7 linked regions of the Homo sapiens genome follow. The protein of the gene in region 2 binds, or shares a complex with, the protein of the main gene of each other region. Each region holds a gene or a part of one and is shown on either strand. Other genes may lie near its edges. The genes, in order: PRPF31, SART1, PRPF6, LSM2, PRPF8, SNRPE and SNRNP200.

Evidence for each region.
Region 1: SART1 (region 2) and PRPF31 share a complex: the UniProt entries of both Homo sapiens proteins name them as parts of the U4/U6-U5 tri-snRNP complex.
Region 3: SART1 (region 2) and PRPF6 share a complex: the UniProt entries of both Homo sapiens proteins name them as parts of the U4/U6-U5 tri-snRNP complex.
Region 4: SART1 (region 2) and LSM2 share a complex: the UniProt entries of both Homo sapiens proteins name them as parts of the U4/U6-U5 tri-snRNP complex.
Region 5: SART1 (region 2) and PRPF8 share a complex: the UniProt entries of both Homo sapiens proteins name them as parts of the U4/U6-U5 tri-snRNP complex.
Region 6: SART1 (region 2) and SNRPE share a complex: the UniProt entries of both Homo sapiens proteins name them as parts of the U4/U6-U5 tri-snRNP complex.
Region 7: SART1 (region 2) and SNRNP200 share a complex: the UniProt entries of both Homo sapiens proteins name them as parts of the U4/U6-U5 tri-snRNP complex.

What each region holds. Positions count from the first base shown.
Region 1 is NC_000019.10:54,122,254-54,125,753, reverse strand, and holds part of PRPF31 (U4/U6 small nuclear ribonucleoprotein Prp31), read right to left. Parts: exon of another isoform or gene 3,348-3,500; intron 3,263-3,347; exon of another isoform or gene 3,258-3,262; coding exon 3,160-3,257; exon of another isoform or gene 3,112-3,159; intron 2,301-3,111; coding exon 2,194-2,300; intron 2,006-2,193; coding exon 1,836-2,005; intron 1,256-1,835; coding exon 1,098-1,255; intron 1-1,097. UniProt on the Homo sapiens protein: Involved in pre-mRNA splicing as component of the spliceosome. Required for the assembly of the U4/U5/U6 tri-snRNP complex, one of the building blocks of the spliceosome.
Region 2 is NC_000011.10:65,968,234-65,971,733, forward strand, and holds part of SART1 (U4/U6.U5 tri-snRNP-associated protein 1), read left to right. Parts: intron 1-3,500. UniProt on the Homo sapiens protein: Plays a role in mRNA splicing as a component of the U4/U6-U5 tri-snRNP, one of the building blocks of the spliceosome. May also bind to DNA.
Region 3 is NC_000020.11:63,991,132-63,994,631, reverse strand, and holds part of PRPF6 (pre-mRNA-processing factor 6), read right to left. Parts: intron 1,226-3,500; coding exon 1,147-1,225; intron 1-1,146. UniProt on the Homo sapiens protein: Involved in pre-mRNA splicing as component of the U4/U6-U5 tri-snRNP complex, one of the building blocks of the spliceosome.
Region 4 is NC_000006.12:31,796,967-31,800,466, reverse strand, and holds the end of LSM2 (U6 snRNA-associated Sm-like protein LSm2), read left to right. Parts: intron 1-1,959; coding exon 1,960-1,990; intron 1,991-2,417; coding exon 2,418-2,477; intron 2,478-2,584; coding exon 2,585-2,710; 3' UTR 2,711-3,071; downstream 3,072-3,500. UniProt on the Homo sapiens protein: Plays a role in pre-mRNA splicing as component of the U4/U6-U5 tri-snRNP complex that is involved in spliceosome assembly, and as component of the precatalytic spliceosome (spliceosome B complex).
Region 5 is NC_000017.11:1,660,868-1,664,367, forward strand, and holds part of PRPF8 (pre-mRNA-processing-splicing factor 8), read right to left. Parts: intron 1,287-3,500; coding exon 1,039-1,286; intron 924-1,038; coding exon 744-923; intron 540-743; coding exon 404-539; intron 296-403; coding exon 126-295; intron 1-125. UniProt on the Homo sapiens protein: Plays a role in pre-mRNA splicing as core component of precatalytic, catalytic and postcatalytic spliceosomal complexes, both of the predominant U2-type spliceosome and the minor U12-type spliceosome.
Region 6 is NC_000001.11:203,864,599-203,868,098, reverse strand, and holds part of SNRPE (small nuclear ribonucleoprotein E), read right to left. Parts: intron 3,059-3,500; coding exon 2,980-3,058; intron 1-2,979. UniProt on the Homo sapiens protein: Plays a role in pre-mRNA splicing as a core component of the spliceosomal U1, U2, U4 and U5 small nuclear ribonucleoproteins (snRNPs), the building blocks of the spliceosome.
Region 7 is NC_000002.12:96,288,547-96,292,046, forward strand, and holds part of SNRNP200 (U5 small nuclear ribonucleoprotein 200 kDa helicase), read right to left. Parts: intron 3,355-3,500; coding exon 3,205-3,354; intron 2,957-3,204; coding exon 2,846-2,956; intron 2,270-2,845; coding exon 2,138-2,269; intron 1,969-2,137; coding exon 1,780-1,968; intron 1,451-1,779; coding exon 1,253-1,450; intron 834-1,252; coding exon 681-833; intron 572-680; coding exon 491-571; intron 201-490; coding exon 117-200; intron 1-116. UniProt on the Homo sapiens protein: Catalyzes the ATP-dependent unwinding of U4/U6 RNA duplices, an essential step in the assembly of a catalytically active spliceosome. Plays a role in pre-mRNA splicing as a core component of precatalytic, catalytic and postcatalytic spliceosomal complexes.

The sequences.
Region 1 (3,500 bases), on a different chromosome or scaffold from region 2:
TGTGTTCCAGTAGCAGTGCCTGACCTAAAGGGTCGCAGAAAAGACCACAAAAAAAACCCCACACAGGGCTGGGGGGTGGGGCCAGGAAGTGCCTGCCCAGCCTTGGCCATCAGTGCTATTGTTCTCCCCATCCCTGGGGGAGGCCAGGCAGGGCACAGGGCCGTGAGCCTGAGGTAACTCGCCACAGTTGGACAGAGCAGGGTCTGGACCCAGGCCTGTCTGTCCCAGAACCTGTCTTGCTTGTTTTTTTTTTTTTTTGAGACAGAGTCTCACTCTGTCACCCAGGCTGGAGGGCAGTGGTATGATCTTAGCTCACTGCAACCTCCACCTCCTGGGTTCAAGCGATTCTCCTGCCTCAGCCTCCCAAGTAGCTGGGATTATAAGTGTGTGCCACTATACCCAGCTAGTTTTTTGTATTTTTGGTAGAGATGGGGTTTCACCATGTTGGCCAGGCTGGTCTCGAACACCTGACCTCAGGTGATCTGCCCGCCTCGGCCTCCCAAAGTGCTGGGATGACAGGCACGAGCCACTGCGCCCCGCCAGGCTAGCGGGCCTGTGTGTGTGCTGTCAGGCGTCGATGCTGGGATGGTGATGTGTCCCGACTGCAGGGAGAGGACCCGGGAAGCTCCGAGGTTGGTGACCTCTCCTGCCCCTCCTGTGTGTCTCTCCCCATGGCTGATGTGCAGCCCTCAGTGGATTCTGTGAGTCTTTCTAGTGAATGGTCAAACCTGAGGGTGGTCTTCGGAGCAGTTGCACGCTAACCCGACGCTGCTTGTCGTGAGCTAGGCCTGAACTGTAAGTGCTTCATGTGCACTGAGCCCTCGTCCCAACTCATGAAGCAGGCGCTGTGCTCCCATTTGATAGGGGAGGAGACTGAGGCACAGGGCGCTCATGCCTCTTGCCCACAGTCACCTGACTGGTGGGTGCTGGAGCTGGTCTGCTGCAGAGCCCTGGCTCTCACGTCCCATGCCACCCTGTTCCCAGCTCCTGAGTGCTACCGTCAGCTGGGCCAGATGGTGGGTGGCTGCTCAGGCTGTCTGGGCACAGCGGAAGGCTCCAGGGGGGCCGGGGGAGGGGCCATGACGCAGTGGGCTCACCGGTGGCAGGGACTGCACGATGTCACTGTGGTAGATGTAGCCGGTGTGGGGCAGCACTGAGGTAGACGAGAAGCCCGACAGCGTCTTGCGCTGGGCCCCGAGCAGCATGATGTTGCAGGCGGGCATCTTGGAGAGGTTGGTCAGGCCGCCGGCCACACCTGCGGTGGGAGGGAGGGAGGAAGGGGGGGCGGTCAGAAGAAAGCAGAGAGGTGGGGGTGAGTAAATCTGCCTGGGGGCTCGACGTGTGCTGGGCACCTTTACATGAAGTTCTGGTTGGATTCCTCGATGGCCCTGCCAGGCGGGCGACCTGGCCCATTCCGCAAGGGGCAGATGCAAAGGAGGCTCAGAGAGGGAGGGCAGCTGGCCTGGGGGTGCAGGGAGGAGGCCCCCAACAGGAAGCTGACCACCACGTTTGTGCTAAGCCACACTAACGCCGTTCCAGGGATGGCTGTGTTTTGGAACCATTTTCACCAAACCAGGAGCTCCCTGACAACAGGGCCTGGGTGTGGTCATCTCTGGGTTTCCGGCACAGGGGAGGGAGAAGGAGCTGTGGGTGAGTGTTTTTCCCACAGATGAGGCTTTGCTGTGTGCCAGGCTGGCTGACCTCTGTGATGTCCAGGGAGACGGGGTGCTGAGGTCCAGGTGCCAAAGCCCCCATTCTACAGAAAAGGATGTAGCTTTCCCAAGGTCACAGTGTCAGCAGACCCCCGCTCCATGGGACCCAGCCCGGGGACTCACCCATGATCTTGGCGGCCGTGGATGCCCCGATAATGATGGACAGGTTGGGTGCGATGAAGGACATCCGGGACTCCACATACTCGTAGATGCGGTGCTTGGAGGCGTTCAGCTCCAGCGCCATGTCGCAGGCCTCCTCCAGCCGCTCCAGCTCCTCCTCCGACAGCTGCTGCCTGCAGGGGCGGGTGGGCCCAGCCTCCTGGGTCTCCCGCCTGCCTGGTGTGCCCAGCCCCAGCCCTCTCGGTTCTGTGTGTGTGTGTGCATGTGTGTATGTGTGTGTGCGTGTGTACACCTGCGTGTGTAGCTCCAGCCTAATCCCCAATCCCATTAGGGCCCGGCGCCTCCCTCGAAGCGGACATACCCCTGGGTGGTGGAGGCGGTGACGCTGACGACCATGATGGTGGCATTGGTGAGGATCTGCTGCAGGTTCTCATTGTTCTTGCACTTGTCCAGGCTGTTGCCCAGCTCCTGGGGGCGAGCAGAGAAGATAGGGGAGGCTCGGGAACTCAGGAAGGCTCGAGAACCTCTCTTGCTCAGCACCTCCTCAGGTCTCTTCTTAGGGACACTGGGACAGTCAGGGTCTCTGCACTGGGGGCCTCTCCTGCCTCCACCGCCTGAAGCATCCACACCATTCCTGCCTCCACCACGTCAAGCATCCACACCATCTGCCCTGCTTTCGCTGACCTGGAAACGGAGCCCGGGCAGAGTGGCGTCTGGAAAGACTGTGGCCTCACAAGCCTCTGGCCTGCGTCAAGTCGGAGTGCAAATCCGCGGCCTCGCTTCCCTGCAGGGGCTTCCCCACCGCCATCCTAATCCTTTCCTGGACATGCGTGGGGACCTCCTCCTCTCCCCGCCCTCACGCACACCTGCCCCTCTTTTCCGAAACCCTTCCTTGGCTTTCTCCTAAGACCCAAAGGCTGGACGTGATCCGACCTCTTCCCCGTCCCCTCCTTCCCCGCCTCACTTCCTCCCCACTTGTTCCCTCTCCAGCTCTCTGCACTTAGACGTCTCTCTCCCCCAAATCTCCGTGTGCCTGCCCTGTGTCAACCTTCGGATGTCAACTCCAATGCCACCGGCTCCAACCACAGCGGGAGCAGCGTGGGTCAGGCCAGCGGGGAAGCCCTCTCGGGAGACTGGGGTTGGAGGGGAGCCCTGAGAAAGTCCTGTCCAGGCTCCGTCCCTCCCACGCTGGGCAGAGCAGACCACTGAGCCCTCGTCCACTCCTCTCCATCGTCTCCAGACCCTCAGGCCTCTGGGAGGGGGTCCGAGAGTGAGCCCCGCCTGCCCCTTCACGCCAGCAGAAGCACCCCACCTTCTCTGCGCTCACCTTGACCGTGCGGATGTAATCCAGTGCATTGGGGACCAAGGACTCCAGTTCAGGGAATCTCTTTGAGTACTTATCCCGGATGAACTTATGGATGATGTCTAGGGTAAACGGGACAGGAGGTTGTCGGGTGAGATGGAAGGTAGACTCTGCTGGTTGGCCCTAACACCCATGTCCCCTTCTTCCTTTAGTAACTGAAGCCCTGGCTTGTGGCCTGGCACACGGGCACCAGCATACAGCCTTTCTCAGCCGTCCTTACCGCTAGGTGTGACCAGGGGAATTAGTTCTGGTCTGTAAAACGTGAGCTGCAGTGACATGTTCTTAAAGAAAAGAAGCGCCTTGCT
Region 2 (3,500 bases):
CACCGTGCCCAGCCCTCTATTCTGTTTAAAGTCATGTTTTGCAAAAATTTTTAGATGCCTGCTTTAGTAGGGGATCCTTTCCTTGCCTCTCTCTTCTGTGCATGTTTGTTGAATGCCTGCTGTGAGTAGTGCATTGTTCTTGGGCTGAGAAGGTCATTGGTGAACAGGATAGCCATGGGGCCCTGGGCTCATGGAGCTGGCTTTCTAGAGTGTGTGGGGGAGAGCGTGGGGAGCAGCAGTGACTGTTAATGCAGGAACGGTAATTTCTGATGGTGGTGGGAGCTGGGCACTCAGTAAACCAAGATAACGTGCCGGGGGTTGGGATCTTAGATGGGAGAGTGCAGGGAAGACCTTTCCAAGGTACTAGTTCATCTGAGACTTGAGTCACACAGAGGAGCCAGCCTTGCGGGGGGTTAGGGGTGGCAGCAGGTGGACAGGCTGGCATTTAGGCAGTAGACCAACCAGCAGGTGTCTCAGGAGAAGTGACCTTAGAGTGCCTGAGGGCCAGGGAGGCTGGAGCAGAGCAGAGAGTGAGGGGTGGCGTGAGCTGAGATGGAGAGGTAGGGGGCCAACGCAGGGGGAGCCTTGACCCCATGGTCGTCGCTGCCCCAGAGGCACAGTGGGCCGGGCACTGCTCACATGTTCTGTGTTTGTTGATTCATTCCATCCTCCCAGCAACACCCTATGAGGAAGGTTCTGTCATCTCCATCATTCCAGAGGCCACACTTTTAGCCCTACCCCACACTTCTCACCTAGGAAGAAGCCAAGAAAGCGTGTCCAGGAGAGGGAGCAAGGGAGGGAAGCTTCTGATACTACTGGGAGGCAAAGTGGGGACAGTTGCAGTGGATTCAGGACCCGGAGGACAGGGGAGTTGAAAAAGTGAGGGCTGAACCCGGGACGGAGGCCAGGCTTACTGTTGAAGGGCTGGAGAGGACGTATTTGAGGTTTAAGGGCATATGGTCTCTGTTAGGCACCTTGAATGCTGTGCTGTTATAGGGAAAACAGCCAAGACAGTCTGTAAGTGAGTGGGCGTGGCTGGGTTCCAGTAATACTTTATTTCTAAGAACAGGTGTTGGGACATAGTTTGCCCGGCTAAAAAGGAACAGAGAAATGGAGCAATAGGCTGACAGGGCTGTTTTATGACTGAAATGAACATAAGGGTTTCTAGCCCCGTGGATCTCAGCCTGCCTGCACATTAGACTCACCTAGGAGGTTGTTTTTGTTGTTGTTTTAAGAAACAAGGTCTCGCTCGGTTGCCCAGGCTGGAGTGCAGTAGTGCAATCATAGTTCACTGCAGCCTTGAACTCCTGGGCTCAAGGGATCCTCCTGCCTCAGGCTCTCAAGTAGCTGAGACTACAGGCGTGCGCCTGTGGGTCTCAGTGTGTTGCCCGGGCTGGTCTCAAATTCCTGAGCTCAAACGATCCTCTCGCCTCCACCTCCCAAAGTGCTGGGGTTACAGGCATGAGCCACCAGGCCTGGTGTAGCCTAGAAAGTTTTTGTTGTTGTTTGAGACGGAGTCTCGCTCTGTCACCAGGCTGGAGTGCAGTGGCGCGATCTCGGCTCACTGCAACCTCCATGTCCCGGGCTCAAGCAATTCTCCTGCCTCAGCCTCCTGAGTAGCTGGAACTACAGGTGCATGCCACCACGCCCAGCTGATTTTTGTATTTTTTAGAAGAAACAGGGTTTCACCGTGTTGGTCAGGCTGGTCTCAAACTCCTCACCTTGTGATCCACCCTCCTCAGCCTCCCAAAGTGCTGGAATTAGAGGCATGAACCACCACACCCGGCCACCTAGAAGGTTTTTTAAACATATGAGCCACACCCCACACACTGTGCAGGCAAAAAAGTGGAAAGCCTATCACAGTGAACACCTTTGTCCTCTAGAGTCAGTAATTATAAACATTGTTACAGTTCTTTTCTTTCTCTTCTTTTTTTCCTGACCACTGGGAGTTGCAGATATCATGACACTGCATCCTTAACGACTTCAGTAGGCATCTGGCGAAATCAGGGCCTTCTCCCGCATAGCCACACTGCCCTAACAAGCCCATAAATGCTGTAAAACAGCAGCTCGCATGCCAACATTTTCCAGTTATCCCCCAAAATGTCTTTTTAGTTTTTTGTTGTAAGCAGCATCCAATCAAGTTTCCCACCCGCAAAGGAGCCTTTTCTGACTACCGGAGATTCTAGAGTATGTGGGAGACACATTTATGACGGAAGAAGAAAAAGATCTCGGCAGGCGGTGCTGGGGCCTAGAGTGCAAGTGGAGGGTGGGCTTGAGTGAAGCCAGCTCGTGTCATCATTTATTTCAGGAGGGAAGGTGGGGAGGGCACAGCAGCTGTGGGTGACCTTGTTTAGGGGAAGTCAAGGCAGCCCATGGCCGATTGTTCTGGTGTTTTTCCAGTGAAGAGGTGGCAGAGGTGGTGGTGCAAAGAGATGGGAGATGCTGTTCTGGAGAGTGGAGAGCAGATACACCCTGGGAGAAGAGCAGGCCTGCCAGTGGCAGTGTGGATGGTGGGATTCATGAGCTGAGGAGGGGGATGGTGGAATTCATGAGCTGCTGAGGGAGGGGGATGGTGGGATTCATGAGCTGAGGAGGGGGATGGTGGGATTCATGAGCTGAGGAGGGGGATGGTGGGATTCATGAGCTGCTGAGGAGGGGGATGGTGGGATTCAGGAGCTGAGGAGGGGGATGGTGGGATTCATGAGCTGAGGAGGGGGATGGTGGGATTCATGAGCTGAGGAGGGGGATGGTGGGATTCATGAGCTGCTGAGGAGGGGGATGGTGGGATTCATGAGGTGCTGAGGAGGGGGGTGGTGGGATTCAGGAGCTGAGGAGGGGGATGGTGGGATTCATGAGCTGAGGAGGGGGATGGTGGGATTCATGAGCTGCTGAGGAGGGGGATGGGATTCATGAGCTGCTGAGGAGGGGGATGGTGGGATTCAGAAGCTGAGGAGGGGGATGGTGGGATTCATGAGCTGCTGAGGAGGGGGATGGTGGGATTCATGAGCTGAGGAGGGGGATGGTGGGATTCATGAGCTGAGGAGGGGGATGGTGGGATTCATGAGCTGCTGAGGAGGGGGATGGTGGGATTCAGGAGCTGCTGAGGAGGGGGATGGTGGGATTCATGAGCTGAGGAGGGGGATGGTGGGATTCATGAGCTGCTGAGGAGGGGGATGGTGGGATTCATGAGCTGCTGAGGAGGGGGATGGTGGGATTCATGAGCTGCTGAGGAGGGGGATGGTGGGATTCATGAGCTGAGGAGGGGGATGGTGGGATTCATGAGCTGAGGAGGGGGATGGTGGGATTCATGAGCTGAGGAGGGGGATGGTGGGATTCATGAGCTGCTGAAGAGGGGGATGGTGGGATTCAGGAGCTGCTGAGGAGGGGGATGGTGGGATTCAGGAGCTGAGGAGGGGGATGGTGGGATTAATGCCCTGAAGCAGTGGATGGTGGGATTGAGGATTGGGTTTTCTAGGGAGGAGGGACAAGGCAGTTAAGGG
Region 3 (3,500 bases), on a different chromosome or scaffold from region 2:
GCCTGGCTAAGTTTTTATTTTTTGTAAAGACAGGTTCTCCCCAAGGCTGGTCTCAAACTCCTGGGCTCAAGTGATCCTCCCACCTCAGCCTCCCAAAGTGCTGAGATTACAGATGTGAGCCACTGTACCCAGCCCCAAAAATAGTTTTCTACTTCACTTAGAAAAATCAATTTAGGCCGGGCACGGTGGCTCATGCCTGTTAATCCCAGCACTTTGGGAGGCCAAAGCGGGCAGATCACCTGAGGTCGGGAGTTCGAGACCAGCCTGACCAACATGGAGAAACCCCATCTCTACTAAAAATACAAAATTAGCCGGGCATGGTGGCACATGCCTGTAATCCCAGCTACTAGGGAGGCTGAGGCAGGAGAATCGTTTGAACCTGGGAGGCGGAGGTTGCGGTGAGCTGAGATCGCGTCATTGCACTCCAGCCTGGGCAACAAGAGCCAAACTCCGTCTCAAAAAAAAAAAAAAAAGAAAAAGAAAAGAAAAATCAATTTATTGGATCTGTTCAACTTCACTAAAATGTAAATTATTCTCTCAAAGCCCAGGGGACACAGTTTAGAAAATCTTACGTATAAATGGGGCCAGACGTGGTGGCTCACGCCTGTAATCCCAGCCCTTTGGGAGGCTGAGGTGGGCAGATCACTAGAGTTCAGGAGTTTGAGACCAGCCTGGTACACATGGCGAAATCCTGTCTTTACTAAAAATACAAAAATTAGCTGGGTATGGTGGCAGGCACCTGTAATCCCAGCTACTTAGGAGGCTGAGGCACAAGAATTGCTTGAACCTAGGAGGTGAAGGTTGCAGTGAGCTGAGACCACGCCACTGCACTCCAGCCAGGGCAACAGAGCCAGACTGCCTCCAAAAAAAAAAAGAAAAAAGAAAAAAGAAAATCTTAGGTATAAATGGAGTCAAAATTACAAAGAAAATAAGTTCATTTGTCCTACCTTTTACAGTAGGGGAAGGGTTTTTTTTTACACACATATAATTAAACATACTGAAGCAAACACTTTCTTCTTCTAAGCAATGACCCCCTAAATTAAAAACGTAAAGTCTCATAAATTCCACGTAAGAGCAGTCTGAGTCTCTGCGGGTTAGGGTGAGAGCGTTAGAAACCGCACACCATTCACCGCTTCATCGGCTCACCTTGAGGTCTGAGAACTGCTGTTGGATTTTGGGGCGTTCCATACGATATTTCTCTATTTCTTCTTTCTCCCTTTGCTCCCTAGGAAATAAAACATGCACACATCAGAAACACTGCATGTCTGTTCTGAAGCAAATTTATTATCCATCTCAATTAAATCACCAAAAAGAACAATTCCATACTCTTAGTAGCTAAATCAAATATATATATATATATATACATATACACACACACACACACACACACACACACACACACACATTTTTTTTTTTGAGATGGAGTCTTGCTCTGTCACCCAGGCTAAAGTGCAGTGGCGCAATCTCAGCTCACTGCAACCTCCACCTCCTGGGTTTAAGTGATTTTCCTGCCTCAGCCTCCCAAGTAGCTGGGATTACAGGTGCTCGCCACCACTCCCAGCTAATTTTTGTGTTTTTAGTAGAGACGGGGTTTCACCATCCTGGCCAGGCTGTTCTCGAACTCCTGACCTTGTGATCTACCCACCTTGGCCTCCCAAAGTGCTGGGATTACAGGTGTGAGCCACCGCACCCAGCCCAAATCAAATATATTTTAAGGTAACTATGAATACATTCTTAGCTGGGCATGGTAGCACACACCTGTAATCACAGCTACTTGGGAGGCTGAGGCAGAATCATTTGAACCCAGGAGGCAGAGGGTGCAGTGAGCCAAGATCGCACCACTGCACTCCAGCCTGGGCAACACAGAGAGACTCTGCCTCTAAATAAATAAATATAAATACATTCGTAAGTCTACTAATTCAATTATCCACCAAATAAAAACATGTAGAAATTCATTAAAATAAAAAAAAAAGATCTTACTTTGATCTAAATACCTCCATTTGGACATGTGTATATTTACTGCTTGAAAATTCACAAAATCCCAAAGGTAGGACCATCCCATAAACACCTAAGAAGGCCAGGCGTGGTGGCTTACACCTGTAATCCCAACGCTTTGGGAGGCCGAGGTGGGCAGATCACCTGAGGTCAGGAGTTCAAGCCTGGCCAATGTGGTAAAACCCCATCTATACTAAAAATATGAAAATTAGCCAGGCGTGGTGGCGCATGCCTGTTATCCCAGCTACTCAGGAGGCTGAGGTAGGAGAATTGCTTGAACCTGGGAGGTGGAAGTTGCAGGGAGCCAAGATCATGCCATTGCACTCCAGCCTGGGTGACAAGAGTGAAACTTCGTCTCAAAAAAATAAAAATAAAAATAAAAATTAGCTGGGCATGGTGGTGGGCACCTGTAATCCCCAGCTACCTGGGAGACTGAGGCAGGAGAATCATCTGAATCCAGGAAGTGGAGGTTGCAGTGAGCCAATCTAGCCTGGGCGACAGAGCGAGACCTTGTCGCAAAACAAAACAAAACAAAACAAAACAAAAAAACACCTACAAGGAAAAACAGTAACTATCCTAGTTACCACCAAACACTCCAAACACTCTACTGAACTCATCCCACCTTTCCTTCCTTGCTTCCTTCTCTTCCAAGTAAATAGTTCACCTCTAACCAACTCAGCTCAGCTGCACAGCTCTATGTGCCAGAACATAACCCATGTAATTGCACTTCGGTGTTGAGACTACATGTGAGGATATGGTATTCACAGTACTGTTCTTCCTACTTGTTTGTATTACGACAGTTTTCAGAATAAAAAGTTTTAATAAGTACACTACTTTTTTTTTTTTCTTTGAGACAGTCTCACTCTGTCACCAGGCTGGAATGCAGTGGTGCGATCTCAGCTCACTGCAACCTCCGCCTCCTGGGTTTAAGTGATTCTCGTGCCTCAGCCTCCTGAGTAGCTGGGATTACAGGCATGCACCACCACACCCAGCTAATTTTTGTATTGTTAGTAGAGACGGGGTTTCACCATGTTGGCCAGGATGGTCTCGATCTCCTGACCTCATGATCTGCCCGCCTCGGCCTCCCAAAGTGCTGGGATTATAGGTGTGAGCCACCGTGCTCGGCCAAGTACACTACTTTTTAAAAACATTTAATTTAATGGCTTTCTTCATGGGTCCGTGTCACCTGCTGTTTTTTGTTTTGTTTTTGTTTTAGAGACACGGCCTTGGTCTGTTGCCCAGGCTGGAGCACAGTGGCATAAGCATAGCTCACTGTAGCCTCTAATTCCTAGGCTCAAGCGATGCTCCTGCCTCAGCCTTGGGAATGTAGCTGGAACTACGGGCATGTGCAACTGGCTAATTTTAATTTTGTTTTTGTAGAGACAGGGTTTCACCATGTTGCCCAGGCTGGTCTCGAACTCCTAGACTCAAGTGGTCCTCCTGCCTTGGCCTCCCAAGGTACTAGGATTACACATGTAAGCCACTGCACCCAGCCTGATGTTTTT
Region 4 (3,500 bases), on a different chromosome or scaffold from region 2:
CGCTGGGTTTTAAAGACTTTCAGAATTTTACAAAAATTGGGGCAGAGAACTGCCAACTTTATTTTTGGCAAGATAAGGACGTTTTTAAAACTGCTATTTATTACGATTATTTTTATTTATTTATTTTTCTTGAGATGGAGTCTCACTCTGTCACCCAGGCTGGAGTGCAGTGGCTCGATCTCGCCTCACTACAACCTCCACCTCCCGGGTTCAAGTGATTCTCCTGCTTCAGCCTCCCGAGTAGCTGGGATTACAGGCGTCTGCCACTATGCCCAGCTAATTTTTTGTATTTTTAGTAGAGATGGGGTTTCACGATGTTGGCCAGGCTGGTGTCGAACTCCTGACCTCGTGATTCGCCCGCCTCGTCCTCCCTAAGTGCTGGAATTATAGGCGTGAGCCACCGTGCCCGGCCACAGTTATTTTATTTTATAACTTTAAAATAGAGATGAGGTCTTGCTATGTTGTCTGGGCTGTTCTCCAGCTGGCTTCAGGCGATCCTCCTGCCTCAGCCTCCCAGAATGCTTGGATTATAGGCGTGAACAACCATTCCCAGCCAAAGGCTGTTTTTTTAAATTTTTGCACCATTCTCTCAAAGAGCACTGGTGTTTTGATAGCATTCCTCAAATAGCATTTCAAGGGGCTCGAGGATTGGGGAATGGAGAGGACATCACTCATGCCTGCATCATCAAGAGTAATGCTACCTACCTTTATCCACATATGGGCTCTGGTTCCAAAGCAATAAATGTTTGAAAATAGCTAGCCTGGGTGACATTCACAGTGAGACCCTTTCTCTACAAAAAAAAAAAAAAAAAGTCGGGAATGGTGGCTCATGCCTGTAATCCCAGCACTTTGGGAGGCTGAGGTGGGCAGATCATGAGGTCAGGAGATCGAGACCATCCTGGCTAACACGGTGAAACCCCGTCTCTACTAAAAATACAAAAAATTAGCCAGGAGTGGTGGCCGGCATCTGTAGTCCCAGCTACTCGGGAGGCTGAGGCAGGAGAATGGCGTGAACCTGGGAGATGGAGCTTTCAGTGAGCCGAGATTGTGCCACTGCACTCCAGACTGGCCGACAGAGCGAGACTCCATCTCAAAAAAAAATCAGCTGGGCATGGTGGCTCAAGCCTGTAATCACAGCTACTCAAGTGGCCACAGTGAGCCATGATCACGCCATTTCACTCCAGCCTTGGCCATAGAGTGAGACCCTGTCGCAAAAATAAAAAAAAAATAGCTGATGGTTTTGGGAGTCACACAGACTTGGACTGAAGTTCCCATTTGTTCTAAACTCATAAAGTTTAAAACAACCTCTCTGAGCCCCTGGAAGGTAATAACTACTTTGAAAGATGGCTGTAAAGATTACAAATACTATATAGAATACAGGTCTAGCCTTTACCAGTTGTTTAATGGTAGCTGTTAAGAATAGGTTGGTTTGGCCGGGGACAGTGGTTCACACCTGTAATCCCAGCACTTTGGGGAGCTGAAGTGGGCAGATCGCCTGAGATCAGGAGTTAAGGAACAGCCTGGCCAACATGGTGAAACCCCATCTCTACTAAAAATAAAAAATTAGCCGGGCATGATGGCATGCGCCTGAAGTCCTAGCTACTCAGGAGACTGAGGCAGGAGAATCGCTTGAACCTGGGAGGCAGAGGTTGCAGTGAGCCAAGATCACACCACTGCACTTCAGCCTGGCTGACAGTGAGACTCCATCTCAAAAAAAAAAAAAAAAAAAAAAAGAATGGATTGGTTTAGGGAGAGGAGATGTGGGGTTGAAAATAAACTACTCTGTTAGTTGTCTTTCCTACTCCAGGGCTTAGGAATGCCCCCTTTTGGTTCTACCTTTTCTGACATCCTCAAGTCCTTGACTTCTCCCAGTCATGTTCTCATCCCAGCTCTGAAGTCACCTCTATGTTGACTTTGTTATAAACTAATTTGATTCTTCTCTCCCTCTGCCCTTGACAGCATCTGTGGAACCCTCCATTCTGTGGATCAGGTGAGATATAGCACGGGCCCCAGAATTGGTTCCTGGAGAAGGAGAGGGGAGACTTAAGGGTTGGGTTCTTACATCATGTCTCTAGGGTTAATAATGGTGTTCGTCGGCCAGGCACGGTGGCTCACGCCTGTAATCCCAGCACTTTGAGAGGCCGAGGCCTGAGGTCAGGAGTTCAAGACAAGCCTGACAAACATGGTGAAACCCCGTCTCTACTAAAAATACAAAAAATTAGCTGGGCGTGGTGGTGGGCACCTGTAATCCCAGCTAGTCGAGAGGCTGAGGCAGGAAAATCATTTGAACCCAGGAGGCGGAGATTGCAGTGAGCCGAGATGGCACCATTGCACTCCAGCCTGGGCAACAAGAGCAAAACTCTTGTCTCAAAAAAAAAAAAATAATAATAATAATGGTGTTCATCTTCCTTTCCTAGTATCTCAACATCAAACTAACTGACATCAGTGTCACAGACCCTGAGAAATACCCTCACATGGTGAGTTGGGGTCTGTGGAGAAGAGGAAACACCTCTAAAGCAGGAGGCCCCTGGGTGGTTAGAGGACATTTTTAAGGGTGTTTTCATATTTGTCCATCTTTGTCTAGTTATCAGTGAAGAACTGCTTCATTCGGGGCTCAGTGGTCCGATACGTGCAGCTGCCAGCAGATGAGGTCGACACACAGTTGCTACAGGATGCGGCAAGGAAGGAAGCCCTGCAGCAGAAACAGTGATGGCTCCTCCTCCTCTTCCCCTCCCTCTTTCATTGGTGACCCATAACCCCAAGTCCCAGCCCAGAACCCCTAACCCCCAATACTTGAAGGGGTTTTGTTTTTTTACTAATGATGGTTTTGTGGGTTTTTTTTAAGGGATGAGTGGATGAGAGGAGTAATAGGGAACAGCTATCCTCTCTTGAGAAGGGGAGGATAAGTAGGCTGGGAAACTTCAAAGCCTTCCCAGTCCCCAGCACCTGCCTTTCTCACTACTTCTCTGGAGATGGTAGGAGAGTTTCCTAGGTCTTTCCAGGGCAGCATGTGATTCATTTGGGGATGGAAGGAATCTGTCCCGCATCGGGAATAAAATTTATGATGCAAATTTGTGTTTTGGTTCTGTTACTATGTGTTGGGCAGGGGGCTGGGACATGGAAAAGGATGTCGAATTCATCCAAGCCCCTGTTACTCTGCGTTAACCCAGCCAAGAATCCAACTCAGCTTCCCACTACTCTCCTTGGTATAAAGCATATAATACAGTTGCTCTACACCATGTTTCCCCAACATGTCCCTACCTGTATGTTCTCCCTGTGGCCTTTTGCTTATACCATACCTGCAACTGGAGTGCTTGCTGTCCTTCCATTAATGTGATAGTGTCATAAGATACATTTCATGCTACCAGACTTCACCAATCCAACCAAATCAGTTCATGTTTTCTGAATATGTATAGAAGATAAATACAAGTGATGTAATTTATATTTTAGAGAAAAGTTGTGACTGGGAATTACTAAACTTCATTCACTCATTCAGCAAA
Region 5 (3,500 bases), on a different chromosome or scaffold from region 2:
TTCCCAGCACACTGCTAACCTCCTGGAGGTGGCTGTCTGGGAAACACCACAGGAAATCACAGAGGCATACAAGAGATGAGCTCAAAGGGTTGTGACAGGTCCCTCTAAGAGAGGAGAATCCTCACCAGAAAAGCCCCTCCCAGGTAGGGAAGTAAGTGCCCTTAAAGAGTGTGTGTTCCAGAATGCCTTCCACACCGCCCAGGGCCTGGATCATGTCTGTACGGTAGTTGTTCAGGTTCCAGAGCTTCCCATCATGCCGCTGGTGTGTCCACCAGAACGGATTCTGCTTCAAAACCTAGATGGCAAGGCAGGCACGGTCAAGCTTCTGGGTGCCTATTGCCCCAAGTTTCGGGGATAGCCATGGATTTTCCTGACTCAGGGAAAATCTGCTCCCTCTACATACCTGATACTGCTTAAAGTCAGTTCTGACACGCCAGCCCTTATCATAAGCCAGTGTGTGCCGGTCCTTCTGGAAGAGGGTATTGATTCGAGGAATGCCACGATCCCATGAATCTTCTAGGTCTTCTAAAGTCAGGCGTCTTCCAAAAAAAGAAAGATTCAAGTCAAAACGTGATCTCATATGAGGAGCTCAGCACTCCTTCCTGGCCAAAAATAATTAGGGTCAGTAGAACCAGCCTTCTCACCTCCATACAACCATGGCATGCTCTGACCCTGAACTCCACACGGTTCAAAGGCCACCACTGCCCCTGCCCCAGGGTTGGCATGCCCTCCTAGGTGCCCACCTGTTCTGAGCAATGGCCTCTTGCCTCTTGAGTGCGTACTCAGCCCAGACCCGCTGAGAATCAATGAACTCGCTCTCCCATGGCTGTATGTAGCGGTACAAGTTGGGAATGAGCTGGTCTTCTTCATGGCTCATTCCTGAACGAAAGTGTGTGATACCTACATCTGTCTGTTTGGACCACCTGTTTGGGTGTACAACCAAGATTACAGAAAAAATAAAGCCTAAAACTAAAGAAATACCCACTTCCCTTAGGGCCTGAGCAATAGGGTTTAGAAATACGTTGAACCAGGCTGTACCTGAGGTCGGATTGGGGGATGAGCACATGGCCCATTGAGAGCATGCCGAGTCCACCCAACTCCTTAGGGGTGTAGAACACAACCGGGGGGAACCGACTTGGCATCTTGGAGTTGAGTCCAATCTTGATACGTGTCTGGATTTTGTTCTCACACTTCACCAGTAAGTCCAAGAGCTCTTGGGTGTTCACCACAGCCTCCCGAAAGTATGTCATAAGGCCAATGAGAGCTGTATTCCACTTATTCACAATCTAAAGGTAGTAGAAAAAAAAGTAAATTACAGATGAGCCAGGGGCGGGGAGGGTGGAGACTACTTGATGCAGTTAGTTTTATCCCTACTACTAAAGAAAGATTTGAGTTCAACATCATTAGTCACTAGGGAAATAGAAAGCAAAACACAATGAGGCTGGGCGCGATGGCTCATGCCTATAATCCCAGCACTTTGGGAGGCCAAGGTGGGAGGACTGCTTGAGCCCGGGAGTTGGAGACCAGCCTGGCCAACATGGCAAAACCCTGTTTCTACTAAAAATACAAGAATTAGCCGGGTGTGGTGGCAGACGCCTGTAATCCCAGCTACTCAGAAGGCTGAGGCAAGAGAATCGCTTGAACCTGGGAGGTGGAGGTTGCAGTGAGCTGAGATTGTGCCACTGCATTCCAGCCTGGGCAACACAGCGAGACTCCATCTCAGGGGAAAAAAAAAAAAAAATGGTTCCCCTGGGCCAGGTGTGGTGGCTCACGCCTGTCATGCCAGCACTTTGGGAGGCCGAGGTGGGTGGATCACCTGAGGTCAGGAGTTCAAGACCAGCCTGGCCAACATGAAACCGTCTCTACTAAAAATACAGAAATTGAACCCAGGAGGCAGAGGTTGCAGTGAGCTGAGATCGCACCACTGCACTCCAGCCTGGGAGACAGAGCAAGACTGTGTCTCAAAAAAAAAAAAAAGAAAAGAAAAAGAAAAAAAAAAGCACACCAGATGGAGCTATACAAACTAGTGAAGAACACCAGAAATGGTAAGTATGTGGGTAAAATGCAAAAAAATATTTTTTCTCATTTTGCAATTTCTACAAAAGATAAAGGCTGTTCAAAGCAAAAAGAGTAACAAAGTATTATAGCACTTATAATACATGTACAATTAAAATGTTATGACAAAAATACTACTAAGAGTGGGAGTGGAACTTAAAGTGTATTATTCTAAGGTTCTTGTACTATATGTGAAGTGATCCGTAGTAGACTAATGGTCAAAGTAGATCACAGTAAGTGAGCTATGTATATACTGTAAACCTTAGAGCAAACAATAAGAAAAAAACCATGTAGCCAAATAAGTGAAAAGTGGAGATAAAGTCACAAAACAACTAAATTCAGAAGAAGGCAGGACAAGAGAAAAGCAGAAAAAATAATTTAAAAAAAAAAGAGTAAGACGGTAGATTTAAACTGAGCTACATTGCCACATTGATAGTTACATTAACCTTAATTGAGGTATTTAGACCATTTGTAAGGCAAACATTGTCAAATTGGATTTAAATAAAAAGGCCGGGCATGGTGGCTCACACCTGTAATCCCAGCACTCTGGGAGGCTGAGGCGGGCCTCGGGGTCAGGAGTTCGAAACCAGCCTGGACAGCATGGTGAGACCCCCCGTCTCTACTAAAAATACAAAAATTAGCTGAGCGTGGTGGCACGCGCCTGTAGTCTCAGTTTCTTGGGAGGCTGAGGTAGAAGAATCGCTTGAACTCGGGAGGCAGAGGTTGCACTGAGCCAAGATCATGCCACTGCACTCCAGCCTGGGCAACCAAGGAAGAGACTCCATCTCAAAAAAAAAAAAAAAAAAAAAAAAAAAAAGAGCCAACTATATGCTGTCTATAGGAAATAAACTTTAGTTACAAAGACACAGATTAACAGTAAAAAGATGGAAAAATACACCCATGCAAACACAAAACAAAGCTGGAGTGGCACTACTGATTAAGACAAAGACTTCAGACCATGGAATGTTATCAGGAATACAGAGGGATATTTGATACGATAAAGTAGTCAACTCGTTCAGAAGACCTAATAATCCTAAATACATTATGTAACTAATAACAGAATTTCAAAAATGATGGACCTGAAAGACAATAAACTCACAGCTGTAGTTGGATCTTTCTCTCAAGCAAGACAGGGTCTTGCTCTGTTGCCCAGGCTAGAGTGCAATGGCACCATCTCCACTCATTGCAGCCTCCACCTCCCAGGCTCAGGAGACTCTCCCGCCTCAGCCTCCCAAGCACCTGGGACTACAGGCGTGTACCACCACACCCAGCTAATTTTTGTATTTTTTTTGTAGAAATGGGGTTTCGCTATGTTGCCCAGGCTGGTCTCGAACTCCTGTGCTCAAGCAATCCACCAGCCTCAGCCTCCCAAACTGCTGGGATTACTAGAGATTTCTAATACTCCTCAGTAATCGATAGAAGTATACAAAAAATATCACTAAGGA
Region 6 (3,500 bases), on a different chromosome or scaffold from region 2:
GAGCGACAGAGACTCTGTCTCCAAAAACAAAAGAAAGAAATACCATTCATTGTTCAAATATTTTTTAGTTTCTATTATGTGCCAGGCATTGAGTTAGGTACTGAGCACACTGGGATCAAAAAAGGCATGACTCATACACTTACGGTGAAGCATCTGATAACAGGAGAGACACTAATAAAATAATTTCAATAATAAAGGTTTTACTACAAACTCAGGGAGCACATAATCCCGCCTTCCCCCATCCCCAGCAAAACCAAATTAAACTTTGAACTTTTTAGAGCAGGGCTTCCTAACCCCTGGGCCACAGACCAGTACCAGTCCTGGTCCCTGTTAGAAACTGGGTCACACAGCAAGAGGTGAGCAGTGGGCGAGGTGGCGGAGCTTCATCTGTATTTACAGCCACTCCCCATCACTAGTATTCCCGCCTGGGCTCTGCCTCCTGTCATATCAGTGGAAGCCTTAGATTCTCATAGGAGCGCAAAACCTATTGTGAACCGGGCAAAGAGGGATCTAGGTTGCGCACTCCTTATGAGAACCTAATGCCTGATGATCTGTCACTGTCTCCCATCACCCCCAGATGGGACTGTCTAGTTGTGGGAAAACAGGCTCAGGGCTCCCACTGATTCTACATGATGGTGAGTTGTATAATTATTTCATTATATATTACAATGTAATAATAATAAAGTGCACTATAAATGTAATGTGCCTGAATCATCCGAAAGCCATCCCCCACACCCCAGTCCACAGAAAAATTGTCTTCCACAAAACCGGTCCCTGGTGCCAAAATGGTTGGGGACCACTGTTTTTTTTTTTTTTTTTGAGACAGAGTCTCGCTGTGTCGCCCAGGCTGGAGCGCAGTGGCGTGATCTCAGCTCACTGCAAGCTCCGCCTCCCAGGTTCGCGCCATTCTCCTGCCTCAGCCTCCCGAGTAGCTGGAACTACAGGCACCCGCCACCATGCCCAGCTAATTTTTTTTTTTTTTTTTTTTTTTCAGGAAAGACAGGGTTTCACCATGTTAGCCAGGATGGTCTTGAATTCCTGACCTCGTAATCCACCCGCCTCGGCCTCCCAAAGTGCTGGGATTACAGGTGTGAGCCACTGCACCTGGCCTAGGGGACCGCTGTCTTAAAAGAAGTGATATTTGATCTGAGCTCTACAGACACAAGGAATATCATATACAAAGATTAATGGTTGGGCAAATCTGCAGATTCAAAGAACTGAAATAAGACAAGTGTTGCTAAAGCTCAGAAAGTGAGGCAGTGATACGAGATGAGCAGAGGGAGATAAGACTAGATCATGAAGATCATTAGATTTGCAGAATCATTAGATTTTTTTTTATCCTAACAGCAACAGGAAGTCATTGCAGTATTTCAAGCAAAGGGATGACATATGTTCAGACTGGTGTTTTTAAAAGATGAGTGAGGCCTGGAAAGCAAACTGGAGGTAGCTGCAGAGAAATCAATTAGTAAGCTGAACTGGAAACTGGTGCCATTCAATAAGGCAGGAAATAATAATACAATAGCTCTAAACAGTGTGAGTTGGAATTGAGTTTGCTTTCTGATATGCTGACTTTAAGAAGCCTTTGAAACATTCAAGTAGAAATGGTGAATAGGCCCAGACAAACAAATTTGGGAGTCAGTATTTATAGATGGTAACTGAAGCTGTACTCCAGTGCCTAGGCAGACAATACTGAATGACAGGAGGGCCTAGAACCAAGCCTGGAGCAACTCATTTAGTGATTGGGTCCCAAGAATGAATATATAAGTCTGAAAAATAGCCAGAAGTGAAAAATAAAAACCCAAGTATAATATCGTAGAGCCAAGGTGTGATACTGCAAAATATTTACTTGGTCTTCAATCCCATACAACTCCTAAAATCCTTAGAATCTCTAAGATGTTGCCTTTTTGTATGCTAATGATTGACTGATGGCCAGCAGCCCCTACAACGTTTCAGCATGGGAGCTGCTCACTGAAAGGACCAAGGCATTAGTGATGTCGGACTTTCAGCCCCACCCTCCCACCCGGGGAGGAGGAAAGGAGCTGAAGGTTAAGCTGATCACCAACGGCCAATTTAATCAGTCATGCCTACATAATGAAGCTTACATAAAAACTGAAAACAATGGGGTTCTGATAGCTCAACATGTGGAGGTTCCCAGAGTGGTGAGCTTGCAGAGGGCACAAAAGCTTCGCATCCCTTCCTATATGCCTTGCCCTACGCATCTCTTCATCTGTACTTTTTGTAATATCCTTTATAACAGACCAGTAAATACAAGTGTTTCCCCGAGTTCTGTGAGCTGCTCTAGCAAATTAATCAAACCAACGGAGGGGTCATGGGACCCAGTTTATAGCCAGTCAGTAAGAAGCACAGGTAAAACAATCTGGAGCTGACAATTAGCATCTGGTGGAGGACTGAGGGGCATGGAAGGCAATCTTGGGGATTGAGCCCTCAACCTCTGGGAACTGACGCTATCTCAGGTAGATAGTGTTAGAACTGAACTGAACTTGACGACTCTGAGCTGATGTCCACTGCCGAACTGATTGCTTGCTTGGTGTGTGGGGAAATATGCCCATACATCTGGTCACAGAAGTCTTCTGTGTTAATTATTGTCAACTGAGGAAACAGAAAAATCTACTTGGGTTTTTCCTGCCACTCAGACACGGGAACAAAGCGCTTTAAGGAGGGAGCAGCCAACAGTGCCAAATGCTGTTGAGAGTTTAATAAAATGAGGATTAGTACTGATCATTAGATTTAATACCACTAGTCTTTGGTTCCCTTGGTGAGAGCTCTCTGGGTGGAGAAGCCAAAATGGAGTGTGGTGAGGAGTGAGTAGTAGAGGATGATTTCAAAAGTGTACTACTACTCTGAATAATAACTTCTCAAATGCAAAATAAATTCAAACATGAACTGAGTTGCAGGTCACTGAATTCTGCAAGTGAATAAAATATTTCTAGAATTCTGTAAGACCACTTCTATCCTTACCCAGTTGTTTTCTTGACTTTGTTTTAGAATGAATCTCTTCTGCATCATCTAATACAAGGTTCATATACTCATCAAAACCCTAGAAAAATAAACAAACTGTTATCTTCAAAGAAAATCACATTCAAACCATTTTAAATGAGTATACCTATGCAGATAAAAACTCCAACTAACTTCAAAGATTCACTCTTCTCAAGCCCCACCCCACCTTCCACCCAAAGTTTTTTTTTTTTTTTTTTTTTTTTTGAGAAAGGATCTCACTTTGTCTTCCAGGCTAGAGTGCAGTGGTGCAACCTCGGCTTACTGCAGCTGGACCTCCTGGGTTCAAGCAATTCTTCTGCCTCAGCTCCCCCCAAGTAGCTGGAACTACAGGGCGCACCACCATGCCTGGCTACTTTTTGTATTTTTGGTAGAAACAGGGTTTCATCATGTTGCCCAGGCTGGTCTCGAACTCTGGAGCTAAAGTGATTCATCATGCTCGGCCTCCCTAAGTGCTAGGATTACAGGCGTGAGCCACCTTGCCC
Region 7 (3,500 bases), on a different chromosome or scaffold from region 2:
TAAGCACTCCTCCCATCTCACTAGGGTCGGGCCTCCTTTCCCCAGGATGCACACAGCACACAGGGATTGAACTGTTCAGGCCCCTTCTCACAGCTGCCATACAACTCCGCTCTCACCTGTGTGACATACACCATGTCAGCCATCAGTGCAAAGCCCTCCAATTTCAGCTGTGAGATGAAGGCTTGCAGAAGAACGTTGATCTGTAAAGAAGCAAAATCAGCCAGCAGGAGACCAATCACTGAACAGTCCAAGAAAGGGAATTACATTTCTGCTCTGAGCATCCAGGCCAGGTGAGATTTGCTACAGGTCTTGATTTACAAATACTAAATAATTGTTATTTCATATAAAAAGAACATGCGAGAAGGCTGCAAAAACTAGGAGAACTGAGCAGGAAACCACACATGAACCCAAATTCAAGGTTCATCTTTTAGAAGATTATGAAAACCACTTAATCCTCATCCTTATCAAAGCAAAGAGGAGAGGAGCTCACCTTAGCACTGGGTTCCTCAATGCTCTCCTTTACAGGGATAGGCACCCTCTCCAGCAACTTCTGCAGCTCCAGCTTCTCCTCCTGCCACAAGGAGGAAAAGGTCAAGGGAAAGCCTTGTGGCCGAGGAGGGACACCATTCAGTGACTTGGTGAGCACCAACTCCCCGCCCCATCATGCTGCATAGGCTCACCTCTCTCACTGTGATGTTCTTGAACTCAGAGGACAATGAGAAGACCCTGAAAAGCTCAATCTCACTCAGGGTGGGCTTCAGCAGCTGGTTGTAAGTCTGCACTGTATCATTGGTGATGTAGTAGTGGCTGGCTATACGGCCCAGTTCTGTCACCTGGAGAGAAGGTAGACTCAATCCAGTGCTGACTATTAATGAGCTCCAACCTCTAACTGTGGACCATAAGTTACTGTCCTATAGGTTTTTTGTACTTTTTTTTTGGTAAAGTATATGACCCAATGTCATTATTGTCCTAATAGGACAACTGGATGAAGTCACAGCAGTACAAGTGCCAGGCCCAGGCACATGAAGAAAAACAGCAGAATAAGCTGACCCATAGTGAAATGATGTCTGCACGGACAAGACAGCTGAATTATCCACCTCAAGTTATGGGAAAAGCTACCCATTTTTCTGCTGTTCTAAGCAACAGGTGATTAGATAGGCAGTACTCACATCAAGAGAGCAATCTGAAAAATTTTTTCCTGGGCCAACAACTTTTGCTGAGACCTTTGCCTCAAAACCCTCACCCCACGCACCTGGAAGTTGCCCGTCTTCTTGTCGTACTTGACCAGATTGTTCTTGTCCAGCATCAGGGCAGCTGTATGAACCAGATCTAGTCGGCGCTGGTCCAGCAGGGGATCTCCCTTGAGGTCATCATGAGAGATGCCATAGAGGGTTGGGGATCGCAGCATTCGGATATAGAGGTAGGCATAGCCCAGCCAGTTCACCGCATCCTACAAGACACAGCTCATGGTTCTTAGCATGGAGAAACTCTTGATGTCCAAATGACAGGCTCCCATGAATTGCTTAGAAATTAATTCCCAACTACAAGGATGCATATTACATCGTATTCTGAATGTTTTTAGCATTTCATTATTAAAAAGATCTAAGCGTCTTCTAAGATCTTGGTAACAAGGGGAACTATCTGCCAGACCCAAGATGTGGGTGCAGGGATGGAAGGCCTCGGACGCTGCTGGCCCGCAGCACAATAGGGACCGACCCACTCCTGGTGCCTTGGTGTCTGCGGGGAAAGCATGAAGCACAACAAGCAGTCCTCCCCTACCTTGGCATTCTGGACATTTCCTAGCACGATTTCTGCATTGAGCATGTCAGGAAGCTTTGAAACCATCTGGCTTTCAATAGGAAGTTGTTGATTGAGGAGGGACAGGTAGTACTGTAGCTCCCCATGAGATGTGATGAGTATGCCTTCACCCTTGGTGTCATACTGGGGTCTTCCGGCACGTCCCAGCATCTAGATCAGAGACAGCGAACCAAGAATGCTATGTCAAGAGAATGTCTGAATTTTGATGCAGGTATCTACATTACAGAACTAGACCTCTGATCTGCTAGCTTTCCAGCATCCCTGCATTTCAGGCAAGGATACTGATCCCTGCTGAGAATAAACTCAAAAGGCTCTGTACCTGCAGAATGTCCAGTGCTCCCAGTTCTGTCCAACGCCCCTTCTCTGGACTGTACACCTGGGTGCCTTTGATGATGACTGTATGTGCAGGGAGATTCACACCCCAAGCTAGAGTTGCTGTGGAAACTAAAACCTACAGAGGCAAAACAAGGTAATGAGGAGAACAGATGCCATCACCAGGGGTTAATATCCCTGGCTTCTCTAGGCAGTTGGCCTCAGAGCTTCTCTCAGGACTAGCCGGTAGGGCGCGTGGGGTCCCAGTACTTGTCAATGTGACACCAGAATAAAGAGGAAAGGTTTCCTTGGGTTCCTCATCTATTCAGTAATGAACATTTCAAGGTTCCAGAGGCACAAGTGCAGACTTGTATTAAACAACCTTAAAGTTACTAGAAAAGGTAAAACAGAGCCTATCCGGAAAGAGGGAACGACAAGGGCACGCGTGCCCCCATGAGACACTGTTTGGAGCTATCTGAAGTCACCAAAGTGCTTGCTTCACTATGCTTCTCAGACTATCCTAAACTCAAGCAAGGTGGGAAGAGTTGGGAGAGTAGCATAAGGTTCTATTTATTGTGTCCACCACAACCCTCTGACCTGGGCTAGCTGGGCCAGAAGCAATAAAGTACCAGGAGCAAACATGGCACAAACTTGACATTGCCCATCTTCTGAAGTATGTCCCACCTGCTCCTCCAAACGCTTTGCACCCCCTCACCTGAATATGTTTATCAGCAAAAAGATCCTCCACGAGTGTTCGGTCAACCCTGGTCATGCCTGCGTGATGAATAGCAAAGCCATAAGGCAGAAGATCCTTCAGCTCTAGGTTCTGTGGAACAAAGAACCGGGGATGAGGCGAGCCTTCCTGTAGGACTCATCCAAGGACTAAGGAAATCTCCTCCCATGAGACCCTGCCCCTTAACTATTATGTGGAATAGTAATAATCACATCCAGACAATCAACCTTAACCCATGGGAAACAACAATACCACAGTACAGTCCTAGAGGAGCTGTCTGGGGCCTGAGATGGACACAGCTGCCAGGTAGGAATGAGAGAACCCAGCTGGCCCCTCCTCACCTTGCACTGCTCAGCTTCTGTTCGCAGGACTTCTGTGGAGGCTGAGCCCTCCCTCAGAAACAGACCCAGAGTGTCCTTTTCTAGGCACATGTCCCGGATGGCCCTGGCTGTCTTTCCAGTCTCCTTCCGGGAGTGGACAAACACCAGCACCTAAGGAGAAGCCACAGTTTGCTACAGTCACGAGATACTCACAGCCCCAGGGCACCTGCAGCAGGAAGCAGAAGTTGCACCATCACCACCAGAAGCCAAGGTCCTGGAGAGGGGCAAGGGCAGGAATGTGTGCAGGCTCAGAGGAA